Homo sapiens: one gene and its partners. The protein of the gene in region 2 interacts with the protein of the main gene of each other region in a pairwise test. Each region holds a gene or a part of one and is shown on either strand. Other genes may lie near its edges.

Region 1 (7,836 bases), on a different chromosome or scaffold from region 2:
TGTGCTTGGTTTGGGGGCACAGCAGTAAGACAGGTGAAATTCCTGCCTTCACGGAGCTTCATATATTTGGTGGGCGGGGGAGGAGACAGACAATAAACATATAAACAAAGAATTAATAAGAAAAGGAGGCCAGGCATAGTGGCTCATGCCTGTAATCCCAGCACTTTGGGAGACCGAGGTGGGTGGATCATTTGAGGTCAGGAGTTCGAGACCAGCCTGACCAACACAGTGAAACCCCGTCTCTACTAAAAAAATACAAAATTAGCTGGGTGTGGTGGCACAGCCTGTAATAATCCTAGCTACTTGGAAGGCTGAGGCAGGAGAATCGCTTGAATGCAGGAGGCGGAGGTTGCGGTGAGCCAAGATCACGCCATTGCAGTCCGGCCTGGGCAACAAGAGCAAAACTCTGTCTCAAAAAAAAATAGAGCTGGGGTCTTGCTGTGTTGCCCAGGCTGGTCTCAAACTCCTGGGCTCAAGCGATCTTCCTGCCTTGGCCTCCCAAAGTGGTGGGAATACAGGCGTGAGCGACTGCGCCTGGTCTGACCTCTGACATCTAAGTCTCTTCACCACTATCTCTTGGGCTACTAGGGCTGTGACTGATACTGTAGCCACTAGCCTCATGCAGCTATTTAAATTAAAATTAAATAAAATTAAAGATTCTGTTTCTCAGGTCCATGAGCCACACTTGTGCTCAGTGGCCACGTGGTCTGTGGTCAGTAGCCACATGTGGGCACTGGGTACCGTATTGGATGGCACAGATTTCCATCCAATAGAACATTTCCATCCCTGGAAAGTTCTATTGGCCAGTGCTGCCTCCCCACCCCGACTTTGGCCTCCTGTCCCATCTCCTGAGTGTTGGTCATTTTCTTCCCACCCTCCCAACCCCTCAGCCTCTTCTTCCTCCAAATTCCTTGTCTTCTGCGTCTTCTCCCTGCCTTCCAAGACTTGGTTTCTCTTCTCTCCTCTTTCTTTTTATTTTTTTTTTGAAATGGAGTCTTGCTCTGTCACCCAGGAGTATAATGGCGTAATCTCGGCTCACTGCAACATCTGCCTCCCGGGTTCAAGCAGTTCTCCTGGCCCAGCCCCCTGAATAGCTCGGATTACAGGCGCGCACCACCACACTCTGCTAATTTTTGTATTTTTAGTAGAGATGGGATTTCACCATGTTGGCCAGGCTGGTCTCGAACTCCTGACCTCAAGTGATCTGCCCGCCTCAACCTCCTGAAGTGCTGGGATTACAGGTGTGAGCCACCACGCCAGGCTGGTTTCTCTTCTCTTTCTGACATTTTGTGAGAGATACCAAAATGTCATCATCAAGAGCCTGAGATACCGGGCTGAGACTGACCTGGGTTCAAGTCCCAGCTCTGCTGCATCTCAACTGTGTGACTTTGGGCAGGTCAGTTGACCCCTCTATACCTCAGTTGTCCTCATTTGTGCAATGAAAAGAGCAGTCATTCTACCTACCTCACGCACTGTGAGGCTTCAGTGAGATTGTGCACAAAATGCACAGGGTCTTGCTTGTTGTGGCCTCTCAGTAAACATTTGCTGGTGACATTAGCATCTTTCTACCTGGCTAACCCCTGGCTTCCTTTTTCCCTCAGTGTGAAGCCATTCTCACAGACACCGTTCACCTTGTCACTGACTCCCCCATCTACTGACCTCCCAGGTAAGAGCCTGCGCTCCACCCTCCCTTGTCTCCCCTCTCTCTCTTCGACCCCTACTGCCTTTCCTTCAACCTTCCATCAATTGAGGGATACATTGTTTTTTTTGTTTTATTTTGTTTTGTTTTGAGATGGAGTCTCCCTCTGTCGCCAGGCTGGAGTGCAGTGGCGTGATCTCGGCTCACTGCAACCTCCGCCTCCTGGGTTCAAGTGATTCTCCTGCCTCAGCCTCCCGAGTGGCTGGGATTACAGGTGCCCGCCACCATGCCGGGCTAATTTTTGTATTTTTAGTAGAGATCGGGTTTCACCATGTTGACCAGGATGGTCTCGATCTTTTGATATTGTGATCCGCCTGCCTCGGCTTTCCAAAGTGCTGGGATTACAGGTGTGAGCCACCGCACCCGGCCAATTAGGGGATACATTCTTACTGAAGCCCAGCTTTGAGGCAGGGTGTGTGTGTTGGGGGCGGGGGAGCCGGGAGGGGCTGGAGAGCTGAGTGGTGGAACTGGTGATGGTTAGGAGATTTTGGTCTTTGCAGCCACACACTGGGTTTGTGTTCTGCCACTTGCTAGCTTATGAGACATGGGGGAGGTATGTTAGTCAAGATTCTTTCAGCTGCAAGTGATAGAAATCCAAATCAAGCCAGCTGAAGCAACATTTTAAAAAAGAAGAGGCAGGTGCGGTGGCTCACAGCTGTAATCCCAGCACTTTGGGAGGCCTAGGCGGGTGGATCACCTGAGGTCAGGAGTTCGAGACCAACCTGGCCAACATGGCGAAACCACCCCCCCCAACCTCTACTAAAAAATACAAAAATTAGCCAGGCGTGGTAGCAGTAGCACTTGCCTGTAATCCCAGCTACTCGGGAGGCTGAGGCAGGAGAATCACTTGAACCTGGGAGGCAGAGGTTGCAGTGAGCCGAGGTGGCACCGTTGCACTCCAGACTGGGCGACAGAGCAAGACTCTGTCTCAAAATAAATAAATAAATAAAATAAAAAATAATAAGAAAAATGTATTGATTTATTGGTTCCAGTAACTGACAGTTCAGAATTATGGCCTCAGGCGTGGCTGGATCCAGCGGCTCAAGTGATGGCATCAGTCATTACTTTGATCTGCTTTCCACTGTGGTGGCTTCATTCCCAGGCAGACTCAGCTACTTGGCAGCAAAGATGGCTTCTGGAAGTCCATGCTGATATGGCCCTGAGAACTCACATCAGTGAAAGAGGGAGTCCCTTAGTTTCCATAGATTTATCAATTAGGAATACTTTTGGCTGCAAGTAACAGAAGACCCACATTAAAAGTGCCTTAAATAGTAAAAGCATTCATGTTATGAATCCATGCAACAAAAAGCCTGGAGGTGGGCTGTTCCCGTGTGGGCTTAGCAATATCAGGACTGGAATCTCTGTAGTTCCTCTCATGTCTGTCTTATTGTCCCAAGATGGCTGTTGCAACTCCAGGGATCATGTCTGTGTTGGTCCATTTGCATTGCTGTAAAGGAATGCCTGAAACTGGGTGATTTATAAAGAAAAGAGGTTTATTTGGTTCACAGTTCTGCAGGCTGTACAGGAAGCATGTTGCCAGCCTATGCTTCTGGTGAGGGCCTCAGGAAGCTTAGGACCATGGTGGAAGGGGAAGGGGAGCCACTATGTCACATGGTGAGAGGGAGCAAGAGAGCGAAGCCAGGCTCCTTTAAACAGCCAGCTCACATCAACTCAAAGAGTGAGAATTCACTTGTTACTATGGGGAAGGCACCAAGACATTCATGAGGGATCCACCCCCATGACCCAAGCACTTCCCATCAGGCCCCACCTCCAACCTTGGGGATCACACTTTTTTTTTTTTTTTTGAGACAGAGTCTCGCTCTGTCCCCCAGTCTGGAGTGCAGTGGCGCAATCTCGGCTCACTGCAACCCCCGCCTCCTGGGTTCAAGCCATTCTCCTGCCTCAGCCTCCTAAGTAGCTGGGATTACAGGCACGTGCCACCATGCCCAGCTAATATTTTGTATTTTTAGTAGAGACAGGGTTTCACCATGTTAGCCAGGACGGTCTCAATCTCCTGACCTTGTGATCCACCTGCGTTGGCCTCCCAAAGTGCTGGGATTACAGGTGTGAGCCACCGTGCCCAGCTGGGGATCACATTTCAACATGAGATTTGGAGGGGACAAATATCCAAACCATATCAATCTCCCAAGCAGGACTTGGCCAGGGCCAAAAGCTTTCTCCTCCCAAAGTTCTGTCTTTTTCATTCAGGAAGAAACTCCTTCCCAGAAGCCCCCCAGCAGATTTCCCCTAACGTCTCATTGGCTAGGACTGTGTCACATGGCCACTTCTAACTGCAAGGGAGGCTGGGAAAGTGAGTATTTAGCTTTTTCAGCTTCTAAGTGGAGGCAGGCAAGAGACAACAGTACCTGATATATTCCATAAATGTTAGCAATTTGTATTGTTCTTTCTTCTCTCTCTCTAGGGTACGAGCCCCCCCAAGCCCTCTCACCCCTGCCCCCACCTACCCCATCGCCCCCAGCCTGGCAGGCTCGGGGCCTGGGCACCGCCCGGTTGCAGCTGGTAGAGTTCTCAGCCTTCGTGGAACCGCCAGATGCAGTTGATTCTGTGAGTGAAATTTTGGTACAGTCGCTGAGGGATTTTGAAATATAGAGGGTGACAGGAAGGGAATGTATAAAGTCATGGTTTTAAAACTTTAGCATGTATCAGAATCATCTGAAGGGCTTCTTAAAACAGAGATTGCTTTCTGATTTGCTAGATGTGATGTGGGGCTTGAGAATTTGCATTTCTAATAAGCTACCAGGTGCGTTGATGCAGCTGGTCTGGGGACCGTACTTTGAGAACTACTAGCATAAAGGAACTGGAAGGTCATAGGGTGACAAGTTGGGAAGGTCAGAAAAGCTCCCCAGGACATCATTCATTCATTTATCAAACGTGTTTGAGTTTCTACTGTTCACTAGGCTTTGTGATGCATACTAGGAACTTGGAAAAGATTTTATTTCTGTGCTTGAGCTTCTCCTGGGCTAGGATGGAGTGGGCCGACTGTTAGAAGAAACAGCTCCTAACTCTTAGGGACTGAATGCCAGATAAGTTGCATGTAACATTTCAATGTAGGTTCAGCAGGAGCCTTGGACTCAAGTGATTTGGGGATCCAGGCTCCTTCCATTTTGTGGCTCTGCCATTTTCTAAGGCTTCAGAATCTGCTGATGGAGTCTCTGCATCTGGCCAGCAGATGGAGGAAGGGAGAGAGTCAAGATTGTGCAGGAGGTTTTAGGAATCTGACTTGGATGTGTCGACTCTCAGGCCTGGTCACATCCCATTGGCCAGAACTTAGTCATGTGGTCACACCTAACTGCAAAGCGGCCTGGGAAATGTAGTTTCACACTGTGTAAAGGAACCAGGATTTGTGAACACGTAGCAGTCTCTGCCACACCATATAAACATCAATCAAAACATCAACCACAAGACCTCTGTGGATTCCCATTCATTCACTCTTCCATCCATTGACCATTTATGAGCACCTGTTCTATATAGGACCAGGCCTAGGGGGTGTGAGCTTTGCCCTGGGGCTGCTGGGGAGCTATGGGAGGGCCATGACCAGGGGAGGGTCAGGGGCAGGTCTGGAGCCACATGAGGGATGAACTGGAGAGGCGAGGTTGGAGGCTGGGGTGAGGGTGGGAGGCCTGAGGTGAGGCTGAGGCAGTGAGGATGGAGTTGGGGGAGTTGTGGCAGGGAGTTGGGGACTGTAGGACTGCAGGGCTGCAGGGGACTGGGTGCAGAAGCAGGAGTGGGGACGATGGGTGGCAGTCAGGCCCAGTGCTGGGTGGACTGTGTGGAACAGCTGGCCAGAGCTGTGGGGATGGTGACGGCATTTGGTGGGCTCAGGCAGCACAGGCTGGAGATCCAGCTCACCTCCGACTTCTCACCCACGGCCAACCCTCCTCAGTACCAGAGGCACCTGTTCGTGCACATCAGCCAGCACTGCCCCAGCCCCGGAGCGCCGCCGCTCGAGAGTGTGGACGTCCGGCAGATCTACGACAAATTCCCTGAGAAAAAGGGTGGCCTCCGAGAGCTATATGATCGTGGCCCCCCCCATGCCTTCTTCCTGGTCAAGTTCTGGGTGAGTTCTCACAGCAAAATCAAAAGTGCTCACAAATCCTGTGGTGTCCCAGCAAAGGCCTCTGGCCCTGAGAGAATCTGTCGCGGGCCCTACCAGGTCAGCCTGGGACTTACCAGTCAGTCCTCATGGCTTGGAGTGTCAGCCCCCTTTGCAACAAGGAACACCGAGGAGGCCAGCCCCCAGGGTGGGTTGGAGGTGTCTGGGCCTCCCTGGATCCCACTAGACATTGCCACATGTAACTAATACGGTGAGTTACCTGGCCATGTAGCTAATAGGGTCCTGGGCATGGGCTTGCCATGTTCCAGGCTTCCCTGTGCCCCACCTGACTGCACCAAGCCGTGCTGCTAAGGAAAGACCCCTCCCCGTAGCCAGTGGACTTGTGGAGACTGGTTTCTAAAGAGGGGACTGATGCTTTGCATCAGTTTCACCAGACCTTGTTGCTAGAGAATGTCTGGCTTTGAGGAAGTGATGAAAAGAGCCATGGAGTGGCTTTGCCAAGTCCTGTATTCATTTATTTGTTTATTTATTTATTTTTGAGACATAGTCTCACTGTCACCCAGGCTGGAGTGCAGTGGCTGTATCTTGGCTCACGGCAACCTCCGCCTCCTGGATTCAAGCGATTCTCCTGCCTCAGCCTCCCCAGTAGATTGGACTACAGGCACCCGCCACCACATCTGGCTAATTTTTGTATATTTAGTACAGACGGGGTTTCACCATGTTGGCCAGGCTGGTCTTGAACTCCTGGCCTCAAATGATCTGCCCACCTTGGCCTCCCAAAGTGCTGGGATTACAGGTGTGAGCCACCGCACCCGTCCAAGTCCTGTATTTATGTAGCAATCATTTATTGAGCACTTCCTATATAGACGCCTGGTGTCAGCTGCTATTTATATGATTGGGACTAAGAGGGCCCATCTTGCGTGTTTCTTAGGGCTACTTGGTTTGGTGTCCAGTATGATGACTAACACTACAGGGGTTCAATAAATGTGTTTTATTTTCTTTTATTGTTTTTTTTTTTTTTTTTTTTGAGATGGAATTTTGCTCTTGTTGCCCAGGCTGGAGTGCAATGGTGCGATCTCGGCTCACTGCAACCTCTGCCTCCTGGGTTCAAGCGATTCTCCAGCCTCAGCCTCCCAAGTAGCTGGGATTACAGGCATGCACGACCATGCCCAGCTAATTTTTGTATTTTTAGTAGAGACGGAGTTTCGTCATGTTGGCCAGGCTGATCTTGAACTCCTGACCTCATGTGATCCGCTCACCTTGGCCTCTCCAAGTGCTGGGATTACAGGCATGAGCCACTGCACCTGGCCTAATTTTTGTATTTTTAGTAGAGACAGGGTTTTACCATGTTGGCCAGTCTGGTCTCGAACTCCTGACCTCAAGTGATCCACCCACCTTGGCCTCCCAAAGTGCTGGGATTACAAGTGTGAGCCACAGTGCCTGGCCTGGGCTCAATAAATGTTGCCTGGATGTTTAGGGGGTGCTAGTTCTTATAGTAACAAAGGTGGTGGAGGGATCTAGTCTCTGAGAAGAAAGCCTGGCTAGGTGTGGTGGTTCACTCCTATCTTCCCAGCACTTTGGGAAGCTGAGGCGAGAGTTTCGCTTGTGTTCAAGAGTTTGACACCAGCCTGGGCAACACAGTGAGACCTCAACTCTACAAAAAATGAAAAAAATTAGCTGGGTGTGGTGGTGCGCACCTGTGGTCCTAGCTTCTGTGGAGGCTGAGGCAGGAGGATCACTTAAGCCTGGGAGGTGGAGGCTGCAGTGAGCCAAGATTGTGCCACTGCCCTCCAGCCTGGGTGACAGAATGAGACCCTGCCGAAAGAAAGAAAGGAAGAAAGGAAGAAGGAAAGAAAGGAAAGAAAAGAAAGAAGGAAAGAAAGAAGGAAGGAAGGAAGGAAAGGAAGGAAAGGCCTGCTGAGGGCCTGAACTTTACTGTTCTTGCTGGGAGTGTTGTTGTTCTGGAGCTTGCTGTTCACGGTTCTGGAGCTTTCTGCCATGTGAAGCAGAAGCCTGAAACTGCTCTGGGGATGTGCAGCTGAGGGCTTAGACATTGTTGGGG
Region 2 (6,444 bases):
ATAGTCAAATAAATCAATGTATAATTTATCAGATAGTACACTAAACAACAGTTGTTATGGGCTTGAATAGTCAGACTCACATATTATGATTTTAAATCTAATATTACCTTTATGTTGTAGAATGATACAAGATAAGAGATAATGGTAGGTACAGCATCCTTGTTTCATTGAGAGGATCACCAACTACCCAAGTAATACACCTTCTTTTGCCACTGCCACCCAAGGAACATGTCAGGCTGCTATGGACAAAAGGCATGTTGCATGTAGGTCACCTTGAAACACAAGAGCTGTAACTTCAATTTCACACCAGTCTTTTATATTATTCTAGTCATGAGGCCCAAGGCCTGTATGCTAACTCATAGCTCCTCTAATTCAGGTGCAGTCTCACACAGCAGACTAGATAGATAAAACATTCTGTGTTTACCTTAATTCTGTGAAAACAGTGCTGTGGGAAGTCAGGCTCCAAGGTCATTTTCCAGGTGGGCCCGAATCTTCCCAGGCTTGATGTTAATTTTTTACTTATTGTTGGTGATAAATACTATGCAGCAAAGTAATGTAGAGTAAGGGAAATAGGGAATACTTGGATTGGGAAGGTGATTGCCGTATTGCAAGGAGTCAGGAAAGGCATCACTAAAAGTCAACATTGAGCAGAAGGAGGTGCATATACAAGCTACTGGGAAAAGTGTTCCAAGCAAAGGGCAAAAAGGTCTTGAAATGGGAACATACTCAGTATGTTCGTTGAAAATTAGTTAAATTGGTATGATTTATGGAATAAGGAAGGAGAGACTGGTGGGAGATTAAATCCAAGAGGTGGATGGAGAGCAAATCATGTGGGACCTGTAGATCATTAAGGACTTAGGGTTTTTTTTCTGAGTGAAATGGGAAACCTCTGGAAGGTTTTAAGTAAAGGACTGAAATGATCTGACAGGTTTTAAAAGAATTATTCTGGCTGCTATGTGGAGAACAGACTGTATGGAAACAAGGGCAAAAGCAGGGAAAGGTCAGGAAGCTATAAAATGATACAAAGTGAGAATTGATGAGTAGTAGTAGTAGAAGTGGTGAGAACATGTCAGATTTTGGTTACAAAGTTTTCTGAAGATAGAGCTGGAAGAATTTGCTTATGGACTGGATATAAGGATTGAGAGAGAGAAACAAAGATTGTGCCATGGTTTTGACATGAATAACTTGGAATGGAGTTGCCATTTATAGAAATATGGAAGGCTCTAAGCGTAATTTGAGATTGAGGAGACAGGGGTTTCATTTAGGAAGTGTTTTAATTGAAAAGCCTATTTATTAGATACGTAAGTGAAAGTAAAGTAGGAAATTGTACATATGAATTTCGAATTCAATGAGATGGAGACACAGATTTTGGAATTTTTATAAATGGTATTTAATGCTATGAGATCAGAATGAATCTACCAATTGTATTTATTAAATGTCTGCCATCTAAAAATTTAAATCTATTTACATCCTCTTTTTTTTTGAGACAGAGTTTCGCTCTTGTTGCCCAGGCTGGAGTGCAATAGCACTATCTCGGCTCACGGCAACCTCCGCCTCCTGGGTTCAAGCAATTCTCCTGCCTCAGCCTCCCGAGTAGCTGGGATTACAGGCGCCCAGCACCATGCCCAGCTAATTTTTTGTATTTTTAGTAGAGACGGGGTCTCACTATGTTGGCCAGGCTGGTCTCAAATTCCTGACCTCAGGTGATCCACCCGCCTCGGCCTCCCAAAGTGCTGGGATCACAGGCGTGAGCCACCGTACCCAGCCCACATCCTCTTTTTTGACATTCTCATTCATTTGACACTCATTCACTTCAGTGTTTTCAAATATAATACATACAGATAATGAACAAATTTATATCTTGCTGCACTGACTTCTAAACTCTAGGACCTTATTTCTGATTGTACAGTTTAAATCTCTTTAGACATCTTTTGACATTAAAAACTCAGTGTAGCTGAAATGAAACTTGCTCTCCTTCTGACGTCCCTGATGGTATCTCCATTATTCTGGCTTTTAAGGTTTGGAGCATGGTAACAATTTTAACTTCTCTCTGTGACTGTGACTACATTCAACTAGTCATTAAGTTTTATCAGTTCTCTCTCTTAAATATTTATTTTTATTTTCTATTTTCATTGAAACCATTATATTTCAGTCTTACTGTTCACCTGGACTGTTACAATATCATCCTAATTGGTGTTTTCCATTTTTCAGCTTACCTATAGATCACAGCTTAATTAATCTTCAGTGCCCATAATGTTGGCCATGTCACTGCCCTAATCAGTTACCTTCAGTGACTCCCCCACTGACTATCAAATTATGCTTCTACTTTTCTAATTTAGCTCCAACTACCTGTTTCATTTTTTATTGGTATATAGTTGTACATATTTATGGGGTCCATGTGATATTTTGATACCTGCATACAATGTGTAATGATCAAATCAGGGTAATTGGAATATCCATCACCTCAGACGTTTATCATTTCTTTGTGTGGGGAATATTCCAAATCTTCTTTTCTAGCTATGTCAAAATACACTATAAATTCTTGTAAACCATACTACTACTCTAGAACTTATTCTTAAATTCCGTACTAGAACTTATTCCTTCTGTCTAACTGTATTTTTATACTCATTAACCAGTCTCTATTCATCCCCCAACATACCTTTTAAGGCTTTTATCTTATAAGGGTAACCTGTGCTTTGGCCAGACTCTGGAACTCAGTGTGTCTCAAGTATGCCCACACTTTCTTACCTGCTTTTTACTTCTTGCAATCCCCAACTTCTATCTCTTTCTATCTTTCGAGATAGAATTCTCTTCCATAAAACCTTTTATTTATCCCCTCAATCTTCTTTTTCAAAAAGATCTCTCCCTCTCTTTTCTGAATATCTCTTCTTTTTTATACTTTTTACCATTCTACCATCATTATTTATAAATAGATATAAAATCTCCTCTAGATCACAGGTTTTTTGAGGACAAGGATTTTAAAATGTACCTTTGAATTCCCCATAGCACCTATAATGCTGCCTTGCACAGTAATGTGTTCTTTTATTTACAGTGATCATATGAGTTTTATGAAGACTTCATATGAACTTCTTGTGAAATTAAAAACAAAATCAAATTCATTTATTCAAAGGGAAATTCAAGATTTTAGCTCTTTTTGGATCCGTGTTTACATTATACCTATTTTTCTTTAAGTCATATGGCTGTGTACTGAGAAATACACATAGTCAAAAAAATAAAGTGAGAAAGGGAGAGGGGAAGAACACAAGTATCTGGTAGTCAGTCTGTCCATCTATCCATCTGTCTGTCCATCCATCCATCCACCCATCTTACTGCTGGTTGACTTGGTTCTATTTAGGGTGAAATAATTGAGATGTTTAAAAATAAAAATAAAGTTATTAAATATATGAAAGTTAAAAAATTTATGAAACATTCAAAGTGATGCAAATTATTTTGCTTAATATGCTATTTGATTAATTCTATATAAAAATAGATATTTAAAAAGACTTGTTTCAAGTACATATTTGATTACTATAGACTTAAAATTATTTAATGATAATTAATTTTAAATTAGAATTAGGATGTTGAAAATATATTTGTATATTTATAATTTTATTAATAAGTAATATAATAAGTGAAAAACAGTATTTTTCCTTAATGGCAATTCTGGGCTTCATCAACCAGAGCTACATTTAAAGCTTATTTTAAAAATTCCTTTTAGAACTCTTTTTAATGTTCTGTCAGTTTCCTTGAACAATGCCATGAGCAGTATATTGTAGTGACTCAATAAATAATAGTTGAATAAGTTTAACTTATACAGTATCTCTTAGATTCAGCATTTTTTCCTCCATTACCATCACTATGATTGTACCTAAGGTCAACATTTCATTATGTCTTCACTGGACAATAGACTTTTATTTTATTTTGGTTAGTCCCACTTCTAGACTCTCCTGTTCCAGCCTTTATACCTATTCTCTCCTGAGTAATACTTACAAAGCAGTTCAAATCATGTCATATCTCTGCTTGAAAATCTTCAATGAATTCTTGTTATCTACTAAATAAAGTCCAGATTCCATAGTGGGATATTCAGCAATCTTTCCAAGCTCATCTTCATTAATTTCCACTTAATACATCTTTATTATTTCTCACTGCTCCTGCTAAGCTGAATAGATTTCTGTTACTCTAATGCATCCTATGCATGTCTGTTTCTGTGCCTCTGTATCAGTCTCTTCATTTGAGGTGTTTTATTCTACTTTTTACTTTTTATACTAGTTCTTTATATACTAGAGTTCAAATTACTTGAAAACAGGGTTTAAGTTTGAGTCTGTTTTAACCTTCATAGTACCAAGGACAATGCCTTGCACTTAAGAGGAATACAATTAAATACCTGTATTCCTGTGTAACACTGATTCAGTGTTACCATATTTATTGTATGCAGTATGCTATAATTCAGTAGGTTATAAAAATTTTATATAATATGAAGAGCATGATATTGTAATGTTTATCTTCCTTAGGAAACTTACTTGAGAAGCCAGAAGGAGAAGATGGCTTTACATTTTCTTTTCCATCAGACACTTCAACTCATACATTTGGAGCTGGAAAAGATGATTTTAGTTTTCCATTTTCATTTGGACAGGGTCAAAATTCAATACCTTCTTCTTCTTTAAAAGGTTTTTCATCTTCCTCACAAAATACAACACAGTTTACTTTTTTTTGAGCTAGTCATTAATTCCTTAAATTATTTTACTGTTCTGTGTTCATGAGGGCATAAATTTACATTATTGCTTAAAACATGAAGACTGCTTTCTTTTATTGATTAAAGCAGTAATGTTTACATTATTTGATTATATTTATTGAAATATTGAAATACTGAATATTTTGGGTTTTGTGTGTGCTATTAACTAATCATTATTTATTTTGGTTTTGATTTTGCGAGCCGTGGTCAGGTAGAACTTTTATTAATCTTAATAGAATTTGATGCTTTTTTCATTACTCTTTATTTAAATATTAAGCCTGCTTCTCCTTGGAACCTAAGGTTTTTTTCTGGAAGTATTGTTGGTACTTTGATAAGAACAAGAACTGCAGTAGTAACTCCAGAGTTAGTGCTGAAGCGTACTTTAGCTACTAAAAATTTCTATTAAAATTATTGGGTTTCACTTCTGCTTCACTATGTAGTATACAGAGTGGTACTGTAATAATAATTTCAAATAATTTATGTTAATAACAAAATCTGTGTTATTTTCTTCTAATATAACACATGGTACAATTCTAATTTTATGAGTTATGCTAATGCTTTCAATGGCTAAAAATTAAATGTAAAGGGCAAGAGTAATTTCTGAAAATTGGATTGTTGTATCAGTGGTGATCCTGTTAATATTCTTTTTTGCTTAAATATTTTTTGAAGAACATTTACAATTTTGTCTCCTTCAATAACAAAAATTTCTTCTTTATGTTTTGTGTTCAGTATTTGTCAATTAATTATATAGCTTAAGTGAAGATATTTAAGATTTGATGAACTTCTGTAAACATTTTGCTCAATATCATTGTATTTTGTGCTTTGTAAATTAGCTGTACTGAGTTACCAAGTAATAAAGGGTTTGACTCCATATTTTGATGTGACTGTTGATGGATTTTTAAACCTAACCCCTTCTTTTCTCATTCTGCCCACATTTGGCCAAGCTGATCAGAAAGCCTGGTTGCTCCCTCCTTTGGTGCCAGTAGGAAGTTCAAACCACATATGGGAGCCCCCACCCAGCCCACCCCCTAACTACCATAAAAACCCAAAGCCAGTCTTCTTTCTCTACTTCTCAAGCTATTTTTCAGTTCAGGAGGCCTGCCCCGCTCTCCCCAGAAGGCCTTAATATATGACTAGAAAAATCTTTTCATGCCCTATTGGGATGTGTGGCATCATCAGTTTCAATATGCAAATCAAATTTTGGGTAAGGGTCTATACTGCTTCTTCAGGGTGTCTACAAATTATCACAGTTGTATTACATTAAGCTGTCTCGAAGACTTAAAAAGAAGGGCAATCTAACTAATGATAGAGTTTAAGAAAATTTTAGACTCTGTTAAAAAAAAAACCATCAAACATTCAACAACTGCTTAAAAGGTGAAAATTTCAGTTAAAAAGCTGGATTTTTTTTTTCGTTTTTTAACAGGTATTTATCTTATTGACTCTATGACTGAATTGATTGGTAGTTTTTATATAATAAAGACATTGGCTATATATGAGACAGAAGAAAAAGTTATAATTTGTTTGTTTATTGATAAATTCAAAACTAGTTTTAGCCTTGAATGATTCAGTGATTCCATGATTTATTTTTACTTTAGAGTAATGTCTAGCAGACCAGTATGGTTAGATTTATCATGTATCAATAAGTGATATGAAATAAGTATTTTAAAAGTATCTACCTTGCACATGGCATTTTGACAGCATATAAAAGGCTA
Region 3 (6,883 bases), on a different chromosome or scaffold from region 2:
CATTAGTACATTTGGGTTTCTAAAAATAAAATATGTTAATGATAATAAAAGTTGACTTTATTCTGGCTCAGTTTTGTTTTGTGTGCCTTGGAAAAAAGTGATCTGATACCCAACAGAGCTGGGATAAGCAATTGCATTGAGAGTCCAGACACATGGGTGCTGGTACCACGTCCTATCACCTTACACACTGAGTGCCTTAAGACAAATCACATTACCTGTCTCTGCTAAAAAATGTAAAAGCATTATACATGTAGGCCGGGCATGGTGGCTCACACCTGTAATTGCAGTACTTTGGCAGGCCAAGGTGGGCAGATTACAAAAGGCCAGAAGTTCAAGACCAGCCTGGCCAACGTGATGAAACCCCCATCTCTACTAAAAATACAAAAATTAGCCACGAGTGGCGTCGGGTGCCTGTAATCCCAGCTATTTGGGAGGCTGAAGAAGGAGAATCACTTGAACCCGGGAAGTTGTGGTTGCAATGAGCCGAGATTGCACCACTGCACTCCTGCCTGGGTAACAAGAGGGAAACTCCATTTCAAAAAAAAACCAAAAAAACAGTATACATGTAAGAGATATAATGGCATAGGCGTGGGCATCTGTAACAGACCTAAGCTTTGGGAAAATGAACTAAAATGAATTAGTATGAAATATAAAAACAAAATCTACTTTTTAATATTAAACAGGCAAATTATTAATAAATATAAATATATGAAAACAAAAAAATACATACAAAAAACAATGTATGAAAAACAAAATATATGACTATATTTAAATATATTAAAAAACAGAAAAATAAAAATTTACAGACATTGCATATATGTTCTAGGTTGCGTATTTCAGACTGGGAACAGTTTGTAGACTAACCCTCATGCGTGGATCACACACCTTCAGCAGTGCTGGCCTGGACATGTCCAAAAGGAACTATCAGTCCTGAACGGCACCATGTCACTCATGGAACTCTCGCTACCCCTGAGAGCTCCTTGTTCTGACTTGGCTCTGAATCTTTGGAAGTTTCTCCCAAGGTCAGGCTGCAGTCTCCTTCAAATTCCAGCCCTTGGTTACTTCAGGCCAGTGCAGTGAATAGGCAGGTGGAGCGAAGTGTCCAGCATCGTCCTGGCAAGCTGACTATAGATAGCAACTGGGGTTCCCAGGTGAAGTATTTTGACTCCGCCTCTGCAGGGGTGATGGCATATTCTGTACTTTGAAGGTGTGTGGTGTTCATTGAGAAGGATGAGGACTGATCATTGCTACCAACAGCTGGTACCTCCAGCTATCTGCTCAGGGAATTGTTATTCGAGGTTCAATCACAGGGAAGATGAGACAAGTGACCCAGGAGTCAAGACCTAGATGGGCTGCAGGTGCTCTTTGTGATGAGGGAATTTCAGAAGGTAGCCTGGGCCAAGTGCAGGCTTTGGTGTCAAACAACCGGGTTCACAGCCCACTTCACTCCTGACTGGCTGTGTGGCCTGCACAAGTCACTTAACCTCTCTGAGCCTCCATTTCCTCATCTGTATACAGGAGATTATATTTCCATGTAGGGATCAAATGGGACAGTGGCCTGGTACTAGTGGCCTAGGGCTTACTGAACAGTGCTATTATAATCATTTGTCCATGTGGACTTTCTAGACAGACAATCCTATTAGCTCCCATCAAGCTCCTTGGAAAAGGCCCATCTGCCTGCGGGTATTATGTGGACTGGAAGTTGGAGATGGATTTGGAGTCTTGCTGTTCTGGTCTCAAGGGCATGTGGATGACCTCCTGCACCTGCTCTCCAGGATAAGACACTGCTCCAGCATTCAGACAGAGAACAAGCCTTTCCCACCTTTCAAGTCATTTGATCTTCACACAAACCAGACACACAGTGAATGTGAAGGGTTTGGTGAGATGGTGCTGTCTTCTAGAGGAGTTGTACTGTCTTCTAAAGGAGTTAAGCAATCTTCCCAAGGTCACATAGTTTAGAAGTAAAGGCATGAATGAATCTATGCTGTGGGTGTCCTCATGCCCTCGCCATAGTGAAATATCACGCTGTCAATGGATGCTAAGCCCGGCCTCTCACATTCCAGAGCTGGAAGGGCCCATGGTTAGTTAGCCCAATTGTGACCCTGACTTGATAGCTGGTGAACTGAAGCCAGAGAGGACACACAGCTATTCAGAGGCTCTGACTGCCAGCTCAGTGCTCTTACCACTGTGCCTCTGTGCCAGAGTTAGTGTCCTCATGTGTCACACGACAGGGTGACACAGGCTTGTGGTTGAGGGCATTATTCTATGGTCAGCCTGTGTGAGTGCCAATCCCGGATGTGTCATCATGTATACCTGGGTGACACAACCTCTCTGTGGCTCAGTTCCTGCACTGTAAAAGGGGCAGAATATAATAATACATCATGTGCTGTATAAGGACGTTTTAGTTATAGATGCACTGCATATAGCATAGTGGTCCTATAAGGTTATAAGGTAACTGTACTCTACCTTTCTATGTTTAGCTATGTTTAGATACACAAATACCACTGTGTTATCATTGCCTTCAGTATTCAGTACAGTAGCATGCTGTACAGGTTTGAAGCCTAGGAGCAATAGGCCATATCACATAGCCTAGGTCTGTGGTAGGCCATAATATCTAGGTTTGTTATTGTACTCTTTACACTGTTTGCACAACATGAAATCACCCAACAATGCATTTCTTAGAATGTATTCCCATCACTAAGCAGCATATGACTGTAATGGGGTCTGACTTGTAGAAATAAATGATTTAATAGGTATAAAGAAATTAGAATGGTGCCTTGCACATGGCAAATGATCTATAATATTAACTATTATTTTGTTATTTTTATTCATGGCTGCTATGGTCTAAATGCTCGTATGCCTCCAATATTCATATGTGCAAATCTAATTTTCAGTGTGTTGGTACTGAGGTGGTGCATTTGGGAGGTGACTGAAATAAGAGGACCTAGTGCTCATGAATGGGATTAGTGCCTTAATTAGAGAGGCCTGAGGGAGCTTGTTTAACTCTTTCCACCATGTGAGGACCCAGCAAGAAAGAGACATCCGTGAGGAACGGGGCCCTCACAAGACTCCAAATATGCTGGTGCCTTGACCTTGGACTTCCATGCTTCCAGAACTGAGAGAAATATATTTTGCTGTTTTAAGTTACCCAGTCTAAGGCATCTGGTGATAGCAGCCCAAATGGACTCAGACGATAGCATAGTTGACATTTTTACTCCAGACAAAAGAGCCAGGCCTGGAGTCCCTCCCTGTGTGTCCTCTGTCTTTCTCATCAGCCACATGAGCATTGACCTGTGGTCCTGACAGTGTCCTGCACTCTGCCCACAAAATAGGGATTCACTCCAGAAATATAAAGCCATGAGCAAGATAGTCCCTGTCCCCATCACAGAAACGGAAGGATACCTGCCAGTTCTGCTACCACCTGCACCAATATGTGACTTAACGTTTTTCTTTCAAATGATTCCTATTTCCTTAGATATTTTTATATGAAAAGCAAACTCATTAGCACCACTGAAAAAAGAATCAGTTTAACTTCCAGACATAGAAGGTTGCCATCAAATTATGCTTATTCATATCCCCTCTGCATCTCTGTTTTGCTTCCAGGACTGACCTTGATGCTTGGTTTTGTTTAAAGATTTCAAGCAGTAAAGAGATGAATATATCTAGGCCAAAGGGAAGCTTCATCATTGCTTTGGGACGCTGACCGGATTCAGACCCAGCAGTGTCACTTCGCAGCCCTCTGACCCTGGGCTGGTGGCTTGAACTCCTTTTATTGTTGTTGTTCAGATTAGAATATGGGTTCATGAATAGAAGTATGTCCCTTTAGGGTTGCTGTGAGGGTTCAACGATGCAAAGTGACTAAAAAGGGCCTAACACGGATTAATGTTATGTAGAGTAATAGGAATATGGAAGGAAAAATAACCCTGTTTCTTGCATTTTAATTTAATCCGGAATCCGCATATCACCTAAAATGATCCCTTTTCTGGGAGCATTCCACATTTTCCAAACTGTCATCCTGTGGTGGGGTGCCCGGCTAGGCTATGGGGAGACCTGGAGAGTTTTATGCAAAGGAGGACCTGGGCAAATGTGCCCATTCAGCCTCTCAAGAGTGGAGAATGCAAGGACGGGGGCAGAGCCCTGTGTCTGTTCTGTCCCTAGACATAAGAGAAACGTGGCCAACAGACCGAGGTGGGGACGGGGACAGGGACCGGCAATGCAGGAAATCCGAGTGTCACATCCTCTGCCTCTCATTTGCACACTGCTCCCTCGCTATGCTCACCGCTCCCGCCGATCCAGGGACGTGATCCAGGGACTCTGGGAAATGCAAAGCTACACACAGTGGAGCGGGGGCTGGGGGTGTGTAGACCGCCGGGATTCCGAGTTTCCCGGCACGCCTAGGAGAGGGAGAGGCAGGCAATGTCAGGGAAATTGGGCAGGCAAGACGCCAGGGACGCCACGTACTGCCAGGTTCTCAACGAGGTGGAGCCAAAGGGGCAGGCCCCGCGGTGCGCCCGGCGCTGGGCTCACGGGTTGCTGCACCCGGCCCAGGATCGCGGGCGGTGCAGACTCAGCAGGGGCGGGTGCAAGGACGAGGCGGGGCCTCTGCGCCCGGCCCTCTTCCCGGACTATAAAGAGAGCCGCCGGCTTCTGGGCTCCACCACGCTTTTCATCTGTCCCGCTGCGTGTTTTCCTCTTGATCGGGAACTCCTGCTTCTCCTTGCCTCGAAATGGACCCCAACTGCTCCTGCTCGCCTGGTAAGGGACACCTAGCTCCGCGCCTTGGGATGCCCGTTTCCCAGCCACAGTACAGACTCTTCCTGGGTTTGAAGAAGTCGCATTTAAAGTTCTGAGCTGAAGGGGCTCCTTTATTTCGTTAGGTGCTTTCTTCCCGATCACGTCCCTGAGACCACTTCTCGCCTCCCTGTGCCTCTAAGTTAGAGTTGAGGGTACTGAGGCCCAAGGCTGTCCTGCTCCATGTCACCCAGTTGGTCAGGGGGCTGCTGGCTGAGCCCCAATGCTCTGACCAGGCTCTGAGCAGTCAGGGTGGATGGGAAGTGGGGGGCCATTGCCTCTTCGGAGTTCAGGACAGAAGGTTCTGGCCTCCTGTCTTAGCCTTCCTGGGCTGTGTCTGGAGCCTGGGACCTTGCTTGTGGGGTAAAAGCAACAGAACACTTGCCCTTCCCAAAATGAAGGGAGAGGAGATGGGGCTTCTCTTCCTCTCCCCTGAGTGGGAAAGGAGCTCTGGGGGCTGGTCCTTCAGCACAGAGGAGGGGTCACTGAAGCGTTATTGACCAGCTGCTGTACCTTCTGCATCTCACTCCACGCTCACTGCCTTTTTCTCTTCCTTGCAGTTGGCTCCTGTGCCTGTGCCGGCTCCTGCAAATGCAAAGAGTGCAAATGCACCTCCTGCAAGAAGAGTGAGTGCAGGGCCTTCCCTGCGAATCTGGGGGATGGGCCAAGTTAGAGCAGGGAACCCAGAGCTCTGCAGGCAGGGGCAGGCCAATGACCAGCTTCCCCAAACCCCTCCTTCAACACCTGATTCAGAATCAGACCTCAAATTGCCTTAAAAATGGGTGAGTCCCAGCCTCTTATTACCAAACTAGAAACTGAGGCCCAGAGAGGTTACCAGATAGTGTTGGGAACAAAGCTGGAATGTGAACCTAGGTCTCCTGCCTCCTGATGCAGCCTTCTTCACCCTTCTGGGTCCTGAAGCACTTAAGGCCCAGGATCTGGAAGACCCCGGGTGATTTCAAACCTAATGATCCAGTCCTTTCCTGCAGGGGTAGCCCAGAGCTTCCCTAGCCTTCCCCAGAACTGCTGTGTCAGGGATTTGCCCCCTGTCCGGCTGTGAAGACTTTCCTCATTTAAGGGTAGGTTTTGGGGAACTGGCCTCCTTTTGTTCCTGTACCCCCAATCACTACCTGTCCAGTCTTCTGTCCTGTCCCAGACTCAGGTGGGGCTGGGCAGCTTTTTCATATAAAACCCTCATCCCAAAGATCTACCAGTTCTCTTCTGACAAAGCCATGCCATCCTGAAATGATGGTCCTCTGGGGCTGGAGGCAGGGCTCGAGCCAGGCCTCTGTTGGGGCAGGGAGGTGCCTGATTGAGTCTGCTCTGACCTCTCACTCTCCCCTTCTTCTCCAGGCTGCTGCTCCTGCTGCCCTGTGGGCTGTGCCAAGTGTGCCCAGGGCTGCATCTGCAAAGGGACGTCAGACAAGTGCAGCTGCTGTGCCTGATGCCAGGACAGCTGTGCTCTCAGATGTAAATAGAGCAACCTATATAAACCTGGATTTTTTTTTTTTTTTTTTTTGTACAACCCTGACCCGTTTGCTACATCTTTTTTTCTATGAAATATGTGAATGGCAATAAATTCATCTAGACTATTCTGGCTCTGGGCACCTCATTTGTCACTGGGTATATGGCACTTGGTTCCAGTTGGATTGTAGGAAACCCAGATTGTGGGGCATTTCAGAGAGGGGACCATGGCAGTGGGGGTCTGGGTGCAAGGTTCCTGCAATCCTGCCTGGCCTTGGCTCTCCTTTGTGAACTATGGCAAACTAGGGGGTTTATTCTACCACCCTCTAGCAACGGTTAACTGGTAGTAGCTGCCCTTTTTGTGTAGCTGTGACACAGCCTATACTCACCAGCCACCTATGGTGCACCTACTGCATACACAGGCATGGGGTCCTCAGTGGTGAGGGGAACAGGGAGCTTATGGACTGCTGGGGGGAGAGAGAATTATAGAATAAGGAATCTTATAAAGGAGAAAGTACTGTGACTGAATGCACTTGGGGTGAGCCCAAATGAAGAACTCTTTCCACTGGGATCTGAGAGCTGCATTCCTGCAGAGGGCACAGCTCCAGCAAAGGTCTGGAAGTGGGGA
Region 4 (8,723 bases), on a different chromosome or scaffold from region 2:
TTACATTAGGTATTTCTCCTAATGCTATCCCTCCCCCATTCCCCCACCCCACGACAGGCCCCAGTGTGTGATGTTCCCCGCTCTGTGTCCAAGTGTTCTCATTGTTCAATTCCCATCTGTGAGTGAGAACATGCAGTGTTTGGTTTTCTGTCTTTGTGATAGTTTGCTCAGAATGATGCAAAACCAACTTTCAGAATAAAATGGTGAGCAAAAACCTGCTTAGGAGAAAGAATTTAGGTCTGAAATTTGCTTGATACTTACAGTTAGGCCAAAGAAAGTTGGATAATCCTGAGAAAATGTCAGCAAATGATTGTAACTTGTTTCTTTTCTTTCACTCTAGTATTCTATATTTTGGAGTCAATCTCATGCAGTAATTAATCGCAAAGACTCTGAAGGCTGACTACTGGGTTCAAATATTGGATCTTCTGCTTGCTAGGTTTGAGACCTTGGCAAATTAAAATCTTGAGTGAGTACCAGGTACACGATAAACTCAAATGTCCGTGTTTGCTATTATTAGTCCTCTGTGGAGTCCTAGAAATTTTCTGACACCTTCTTATTCTCCAAAATTTCCTTTTTCTAGACTTCATGAGGAAAACACACCTCTTCAGATTAATCTGTTTTTGAGATATAAGAAAATTCCAAATATACAAATTCCTTTAATAGGTATATTTTGGTTGCCTCTTCTTGATAACTGCTAGGAAGACACTTTAATCTCACCAAAAAAAAAAAAATTCTCTCTAAATTACACTTTTGTTTGCATTTTCTTAGTACCTATAAATAGTAAGTCCATCCTGTGACCTGGGATTATCAGAATGGGTGGCCTTCCTTTGATCTGAGAATTTTGCCTTTCTTGCTAGACTTGGGGACAAAGGTAACTTGTGTACCTGTAACTCTCAGCCCATGAGCTCTGTGCCTTTTTGGACTTAGTTTTCATTCAATTATCATGTAAGACAGAGAAATGTCTTCAGGGGGAAAATTCTGTCATGAAATAATAGAGTAGGAAGTGACTTCAGAGGTCACCAGGACATCTCTTTTCTTTTCCAAGAACTGAGGTTCAGAGAGGAGACATGACTCTTTTGGGGAACACAGGACAGGGCACAGGCAAAGGTGGGACTTACTGCACAGTCCTTCCTCCTACAGCACAAGTTGTAATGGTACAGAGGTGACATTAATTGATTCTGAAAAAACCTTGAAAAACAAATTAACTTAATGCTTATTTTCTTCATTCTTGACAGAAGAAAAAACATAAAATCTTGTGAATGAGATTCAAATGTCTGAGAAATTTTCTATCTATAAATGCTTTCATGACAAGGCCCAGTCAGTTATGCAATTACACTCAAGGGTGCATGCACTATTTGTGATGTTGTTTTGTAGGCATTCAATGAGGTAATACAAGACAAGTGCTTGGTTCAATGCTTGGCCCACAGGAAATACTTAATGAATTTTAGCTATTTCTATTACTATTATTTGCCTACATATAGGAATCCTCTTTTAGCCAAAAGGCTAGGTAGTGAAAGATTTGCTCATAATCTTGGATATAATTACCATATCATTCTTCACAGTATCTGAAGAGGCAGACTTCAGATAATAGCATTATCATTATTGAAATCTGGGAAAACACAGACACTAAAATATTTGCAGGCATGTTTCAATTACTCAAGTAGGTTAGAAGCAGAAAAACATATTCTTTATTTCCTGTATTTTCAACCCCAGGTTTAAATACGTCACTTTTACATGTTTTTAGTTTTTCAAATAACTAACTATAAAAAGGAAAACTGTTTTATTAAATAAAATATACAAAAGTAAACCAGACCACTCTAGAATCTGAGCAAAGGAAGTTTTGTGGGCTTCTCCTGGATACTTCTCCCCTTCCCCATCAACAGACAAGCTAGAAAAGGAGAAATAGGTTTGTTTGAACACTTCTCTTTTACAAAAATAAATAAAGAGGAACAAATATGTGGGCCACGTTTTAAAAATTGTATGTGTTTTTCCATTACTTATCGAGCAACTGCTTGCTAAGCAAGGCACTAAGTGACTTAAATGCACAAACTCATTGAATCCTTTCAACTCTGAGTAGAATGATTTTTATCATCACCATTTTACAGATAAGGAAACTAAGGCAGCTGCCTAAAGTCCCAGAGCTTGCAAATAATGGAGTGGAGATTCCTCTAAGAGGTCATGATTCCAGGATGAAACTCTTTAATCACTATCTTGTATAGTCACATTACTACACAGGTGGGCAAATAAAGAAAACAAGGACAGAAATGGACTATGATTTAACGTTGGATTTTTAACAGCAGTTAGGAATTTGCTAATTCAATACCACAGGATTAAAAGTTTTCCAACTAGGAAGCCCCAGAGAAAATGAAGACATATTTATTAAATTATAATAGGCCTTTAAATGACTGTGTGGACATGATCATACAACTTGACACGTTTTTTCACGGGTATTTCTCATGCAGTCCAGTCTGGATCCACAACATGCTCCTGAAGGGTGTGTGGCATGAAGAAGTCACTGCCCTGGAGAGCAGGGAACTGAGAGGTAACAATCCATGAGGGGTTTTCACTTTGCCCTTGCCCTTTTCCTCCTCCCTATTCCAGTAGACACTTGGCTCCGTGCTCATTTCCTCAGAAGAGGATGAAGCAGGGTGAAAAATGAAAGTTGCCTGACAGCTACTTCTCTTTCTGCTGTTAGTGCCCAAACCCAACCACAGAAAAGGAAAGAATTCTTGAGCATAGATTCTTGAAGGGAAACGATTTTCCCTTCAGGTGAACTGCTAATAATATTAACAATTGCTCTCACTCATGGATCCCTAACTATGCATTAGGCACACTTTGAAGCACATATCTGTGTACTCATTTAATTCTGTAAAAGCTTATGAGAGAGTTATTACTAATATTGTTAGAATGCTCCATGAAGATTTGTTTTTGTCTGATTTTATTTAGTGCTATATCTCTATTTATTTACTTATTTATTTTTGAGATGGAGTCTCGCTCTGTCGCCAGGCTGGAGTGTAGTGGCACGCTCTCGGCTCACTGCAATCTCTGCCTCCCGGGTTCAAGCGATTCTCCTGCCTCACACTCCCGCGTAGCTGGGATTACAGGCGTGGGCCACCACACCTGGCTGATTTTTGTATTTTTAGTAGAGATGGAGTTTCACCATGTTGACCAGGATGGTCTCCATCTCCTGACCTTGTGATCCACCTGCCTCGGCCTCCCAAAGTGCTGGGATTACAGGAGTGAGCCACCGCGCCCAGCCTTATTTACTGCTATATCTCTAGCGTTCAGAACAATACCTGGCAAAGATTAGGAACAAATAAATATTTATTGTAGAATCAATCTCCATCTAAAGGTGAAGGAGCTCAGGCACAGAGAGATTAAGTTACCTGCCCAAAGGCCCACAGCTGGTAGAAGACTAGGAGAGTTAGAGCACCCCCACCTGGGCTGGGAGAAGAGACAAGAGGATGGGAAAGCTGTGCTTCCCGAGTAGAGGAGATCTGGGACCCTCTCCTGGGACCCTCTTGTGCCTCCAGGGAGGTAGAAAGACCACAGAGAAGAAGTGGCTCTGTTGGGTACTGGGCAGGTGGAATCTCAGGCAGCGTTGTGATGAAACCACCACACTGGGGCAAGAAGGTAGCAAAATGAGAATGCTACAGGAGCTGCAGAGAGCTCCTGGCGTGGAGGCCATGCACACAAGGACAATGGATGCCTCTAGAGCAGCCTCTGTTGATCGGTGACCAAGGATCAAGTGGCTGCTCCTTCCCCAATCCTTGATGTGTTACTCTGCTTTCCTCCAGCCAAAACAACTGGTCGTAAAAGATAAAATTGTAATACAAAATGAGAAAAGTGTTATTTTTTGTATACTTGATTTTTTTTTAACTGAAGCAGTCTCGTATTATATATAGGCAGCATTATGTAAGGAAAAATATTAAATGTGTCATCAGAAGGCCTAGATTTTAATCCTAGCTTGTCCCAACAAAAATTCGCAGGCAATTTACCTAATTTCCCTATGTCTCAGTTTCCTCATTTATAAAAATAGGGATTAAAAATCATTGAGGTGAGGATAAAAAGATTTTTTTGAAAATATAAGTTAAAGCTGTCAAAGATAATAAATGCATTGTGTTAATTTTGTATAGCTCCCACTCCCATCCCATTTGCACTTGATTTTGACACACATGTATCCTTTTTTGGTGGGTAAAGGGCTACACTTGCGTCTTCTCTTTTTACATACTAGTATTTACATTTATTTTCATTTCTGACGTTTATACTAAGTGGATGTAAACATATTTTTCAAAATTAAAAGCACTTTAGAAATAAGAAATATTAAATGATTGATATGTTGCTATTGTTGCCTGTGGGAGTAATTTTCTGGAAGTTGAAAGCCAGCTGGTCATTGAAATGTTTCATGGATAATCCTCAGGCTCAGTAAGGCCCAGGCAGGCATTTTATTGGATCTTTTCACTGAGCTGTCCTAATATTATAGATAAAAATAATTCCTGCACTAAGAAGTGAAACAATAAATTTCTAAAATGTCAGGCATTTGTTACTAAATTGTAAAAGGATCACAAACAAGATGAATTGGAAACTTCTACACCAGGTTTACTTTAAACACTTTGGCTTTTCTGAGAAATGAGAGTAAATGAAATAAACCAGCAACAATGCAAATTTACAGTCCTTGCAAAAACGTGAACTATAAATTAGGGTTATTCTATCATCAGATGTATATTAGTGGTCATGACATGCCTGGCACTCCTCTTAGAACTGAGGAGACAATAGTGAAAAAGACAGTGAAGTGCCTGCCTTTACAGAGCTTACATTCCACTGGGAGAAACCAAAAACAAACAAGTTAAATACACCACATTGTTAGACACTGCCTCGAAGGAACATACAGCAGGTACAGGAGAGACTGTTTCTAAAATAGAGAAGCAAGTCATGTGCACATCTGCAAAGATGATTTCATTACATTCAGGTTTTCTTATTCTCCAGGAGCCTATGGTGTAAAACTGAAAATAAGTGAACATGTAACAGTGGGCATACATATGCAGCTATAACTTTGACTTTACCTTGTATACAAATGTGTTGGTTTATTTATACCCAGATATCCTGTATAACCAGCAGTCTTCGCAGGCTTGAACTGCCTGGCATGCATGTTTTATCTAAGAAAAGAAGGAAGAGCGTTAGGTAGAAGGAAGTTGCCTGTCCTCTCACTGGCTCGTGATTATCACTTACTCGTCATATAAACCCAAGGCACAGTCACATACCCAGGGATACAAGACACTGCAGACTCCCGAGAGACATAACACAGGTAAGTCATATTACTGAACTCCACATAGGTAATAAATGAGATATGCTTTACTCTTTACTTCAGAGTTTTTATTATTCTCATATCCTGTTTGTGACTAACTGTCTTGTGAGCTATTTTCATGATGGTGCTCACTCTGACCTTGTCTTACCCAGAACCTCTCCATATATGCGAATATGTGAAACTCAAATAGTCATTTTTAAGGAAATATAGGTACAGGAGATTTAAGAAGATCTCTTCAAGTGGATTTTAACATAGAAAATATAATCAATGCTAGAGGAAAAATCCTGTCTTAATCAGGGTTTGTTACTACTTCCAGAATTTTCCCAAGTGATTCTTCAATAACTTGGATTGATGGAGTAGAGAATATTATCTCATGGCTGTTCAATTTCTTTCCTTTGCTTTAAAGTTTAAGACTTTTACTGGTAATATTTTATATTATTTTAAGGCACATTTTGTTGAAGCATCTCCATGTTTTGATAAGAATTGCAACCTATCATCTTTTGGCTTCAGAGATGGTTTAAGGGATTTACCCCAGGCCAGGAATTTCAACTCACAGCTCCCAAAGGATATTTCAGTTATTCCTCTTGCTTTGGCTTTAATGTGAAACAGTCACTTAAAATGACATTTAGTTGATATTTGATAAAAAAAAAAAAAATAGAGCTTTCAGCTTGCTAATTCAAAGTTAAACATCCAGTGCTTGATTGAAATCAATATCTTACTCAGTCAACAACAATTCTTCTATTTCTCTATTGTCCTATAATTTAACTCCAACCTGGCAACTTTTCCAGAATTGAACTTGAAATGCCCAGGGACACTGTGAAATGAGGGAAATTAACATTCTTTACCATCAAATGTTAGGGGTAATAAAAAGCTGTTTTAATGTCAGTATATGCAAGAAGTTCCCCTGTGAACAATAGTATCTCACATGATTGCTGTCTGAATCCAATTTTTACATTTCAGAACACCAGGGTCTATATAATAGGAGTGTAAACATGCTCTAGGCCATTACATTTTGTATAAGTTTATTACTGGGCAAGTTAAGATCTGCATCTTAAACTCAAAGAAGAGCTATAGCAAATTCACAAGTAATCTTTGTTTTTATATCTCTAACTCAGATTATTGCGCAATTACTAAGCATGTAAAAAACTGTGTCTGGAATGCCCAAATATGTTTGAATTCTTGATGTGTCGTATTTAAGAGTAAGAGCTTACGTTGGCTAACATTTTGTATTGAACTGTAGAATGGTCAATACTTAATTCCTCATTTGTAAGTTTTCTATCTAACAAAATTATTCCAAAAGTTCTCTTTTTTGAACTAAAAATATTTCGGCTGAAGTCTTTATTAAGATGTTTAGTATAGGCATTGGATATTGATTAGCCTGTGTTGTCAGAGAGTTGAAATTGGATTGTTGTCATCTTTCTGGCACAGAGACTAGAATTTTTGAGACTATTTTTTACTGTGCTTTTACAGCAGTATACGGAATAATATATTGTTAAATTGTTTTATTATAAAAGTTTGTAATTTTTTCAATGATTATGTTAAAATTGCCTCTGGGATTGAATTAATCAGATGAAATAAATCAGCATTGTATTAGTTAGTTTTCACGCTGCTGATTAAGACATACCTGAGACTGGGTAATTTATAAAGAAAAAAAAGTTTGGCCGGGCGAGGTGGCTCAGCCTGTAATCCCAACATTTTGGGAGGCCGAGGCTGGCGGATCACCTGAGGTTAGGAGGTCCTGGCCAACATGGCGAAACCACGTCTCTACTAAAAATACAAAAATTAGCTGGGCGCGGTGGTGGGCGTCTGTAATCCCAGCTACTGGGGAGGCTGAGGCAGGGAGAATCGCTTGAACCCGGGAGGCGGATGCTGCAGTGAGCCGAGATTGCGCCACTGCACTCCAGCCTGGGCGACAGAGCAAGACTCCGTCTCAAAAAAAAAAAAAGAAAGAAAAAAAAAAAGAAAAAAATTTGCCGGGCGTGGTGGTTGGTGCCTGTAATCCCAGCTACTCTGGTGGCTGCGGCAGGAGAATCGCTTGAACCCGGGAGGCAGAGGCTGCGGTGAGACGAGATCACGCCATTGCACTCCAGGCTGGGCGACAAGAGTAAAACTCCGTCTCAAAAAAAAAAAAAAAAAAAAAAAAAGGGAGGGGGGCGGGCCGGGCCCGGTGGCTCACCCCTGTAAACCCAGCACTTTGGGAGGCTGAGGCAGGCGGATCACGAGGTCAGGAGATCGAGACCACCCCGGCTAACACGGGGAAACCCCATCTCTATTAAATATACAAAAAAATTAGCTGGGCGTGGTGGCGCGTGCCTGTAGTCCCAGCTACTCGGGAAGCTGAGGCAGGAGAATGGCGTGAACCCGGGAGGTGGAGCTTGCAGTGAGTGGAGATCACGCCACTGCACTCCAGCCTGGGCGACAGAGAGAGACTCCGTCTCAAAAAAAAAAAAAAAAAAAAAAAAAAAAAAAAAAAAAAAAAAAAAGAGAAAGAAAGAAAGAAAGAAAGAAAGAAAGAAAGAAAGAAAGAAAGAAAGGTTTAGACCAGGCACAGTGGCTCACACCTGTAATCCCAGCACTTTGGGAGGCCCAGGCAGGCGGATCACAAGGTCAGATGATCGAGACCATCCTGGCCAACATGGTGAAACCCCATCTCCACTAAAAAATAAAATACAAAAATTAGCTGTATGTGGTGGCGCACACCTATAATCCTAGCTACTTGGGAGACTGAGGCAGGATAATCGCTTGAACCCAGGAGGCGGAGATTTCAGTGAGCCCAGATTGCGCCACTGCACTGCAGTTCCACATGGCTGGGGAGACCTCACCATCATAGCGGAAGAGGAAGGGATGTCTTACATGGCAGCAGGCAAGACAGAACCAGAGCCAAGTTAAAGGGGAAATCCCTTATAAAATGATCAGATCTCGTGAGACTTATTTACTACCATGAAGTCAGTATGGGGGAAACCGCCCCCATGATTCAATTATCTCCCACCGGGTCCCTCCCATGACAAGTGGGAATTATGGGAGCTACAATTCAAGATGAGATTCTGGTGGGGATATAGCCAAACCATAACAAGCATTCTATAAAGTAAAAAAAAGCTACAAGAAAGAAAGAGAAAGAAAGGAAGTACCCAAGATAGTACTTTAAAAACACTGTTATTTCCCATATAAAAGAGCTTATTTCCTAATGCATATATTAATATTAAAAGTTAAATCTTCTGCAGTGGATAGCTATGTTCATATGAGTTTATATGTCTAAGTTTTTATCCAGGGTATTTATTAGTCGTTTATGTGTTCTTTGATAAACCGTATAGGTTATTTTTCAAACAGAATTCTAAATGAGCTTTTTATCTATCTGCTGAATTAGTAACTTTACACGATATACTTTGGGGTGTAAGGAAGCCAGTGGTTAATTTTAGAT

Evidence for each region.
Region 1: the proteins of C14orf39 (region 2) and TEAD2 interact in binary tests that used the Homo sapiens proteins (3 or more experiments, as listed by UniProt).
Region 3: the proteins of C14orf39 (region 2) and MT1X interact in binary tests that used the Homo sapiens proteins (3 or more experiments, as listed by UniProt).
Region 4: the proteins of C14orf39 (region 2) and HPGDS interact in binary tests that used the Homo sapiens proteins (3 or more experiments, as listed by UniProt).

The regions. Positions count from the first base shown.
Region 1 is NC_000019.10:49,345,131-49,352,966, reverse strand, and holds part of TEAD2 (transcriptional enhancer factor TEF-4), read left to right. Parts: intron 1-1,601; coding exon 1,602-1,666; intron 1,667-3,907; coding exon of another isoform or gene 3,908-4,010; intron 4,011-4,121; coding exon 4,122-4,264; intron 4,265-5,603; coding exon 5,604-5,777; intron 5,778-7,836. UniProt on the Homo sapiens protein: Transcription factor which plays a key role in the Hippo signaling pathway, a pathway involved in organ size control and tumor suppression by restricting proliferation and promoting apoptosis.
Region 2 is NC_000014.9:60,435,115-60,441,558, reverse strand, and holds the end of C14orf39 (protein SIX6OS1), read left to right. Parts: intron 1-4,511; coding exon 4,512-4,714; 3' UTR 4,715-5,603; downstream 5,604-6,444. UniProt on the Homo sapiens protein: Meiotic protein that localizes to the central element of the synaptonemal complex and is required for chromosome synapsis during meiotic recombination. Required for the appropriate processing of intermediate recombination nodules before crossover formation.
Region 3 is NC_000016.10:56,677,814-56,684,696, forward strand, and holds MT1X (metallothionein-1X), read left to right. Parts: upstream 1-4,656; 5' UTR 4,657-4,727; coding exon 4,728-4,755; intron 4,756-5,351; coding exon 5,352-5,417; intron 5,418-6,144; coding exon 6,145-6,236; 3' UTR 6,237-6,383; downstream 6,384-6,883. UniProt on the Homo sapiens protein: Metallothioneins have a high content of cysteine residues that bind various heavy metals; these proteins are transcriptionally regulated by both heavy metals and glucocorticoids. May be involved in FAM168A anti-apoptotic signaling.
Region 4 is NC_000004.12:94,339,377-94,348,099, reverse strand, and holds the start of HPGDS (hematopoietic prostaglandin D synthase), read left to right. Parts: upstream 1-5,263; 5' UTR 5,264-5,305; intron 5,306-8,723. UniProt on the Homo sapiens protein: Bifunctional enzyme which catalyzes both the conversion of PGH2 to PGD2, a prostaglandin involved in smooth muscle contraction/relaxation and a potent inhibitor of platelet aggregation, and the conjugation of glutathione with a wide range of aryl halides and organic isothiocyanates.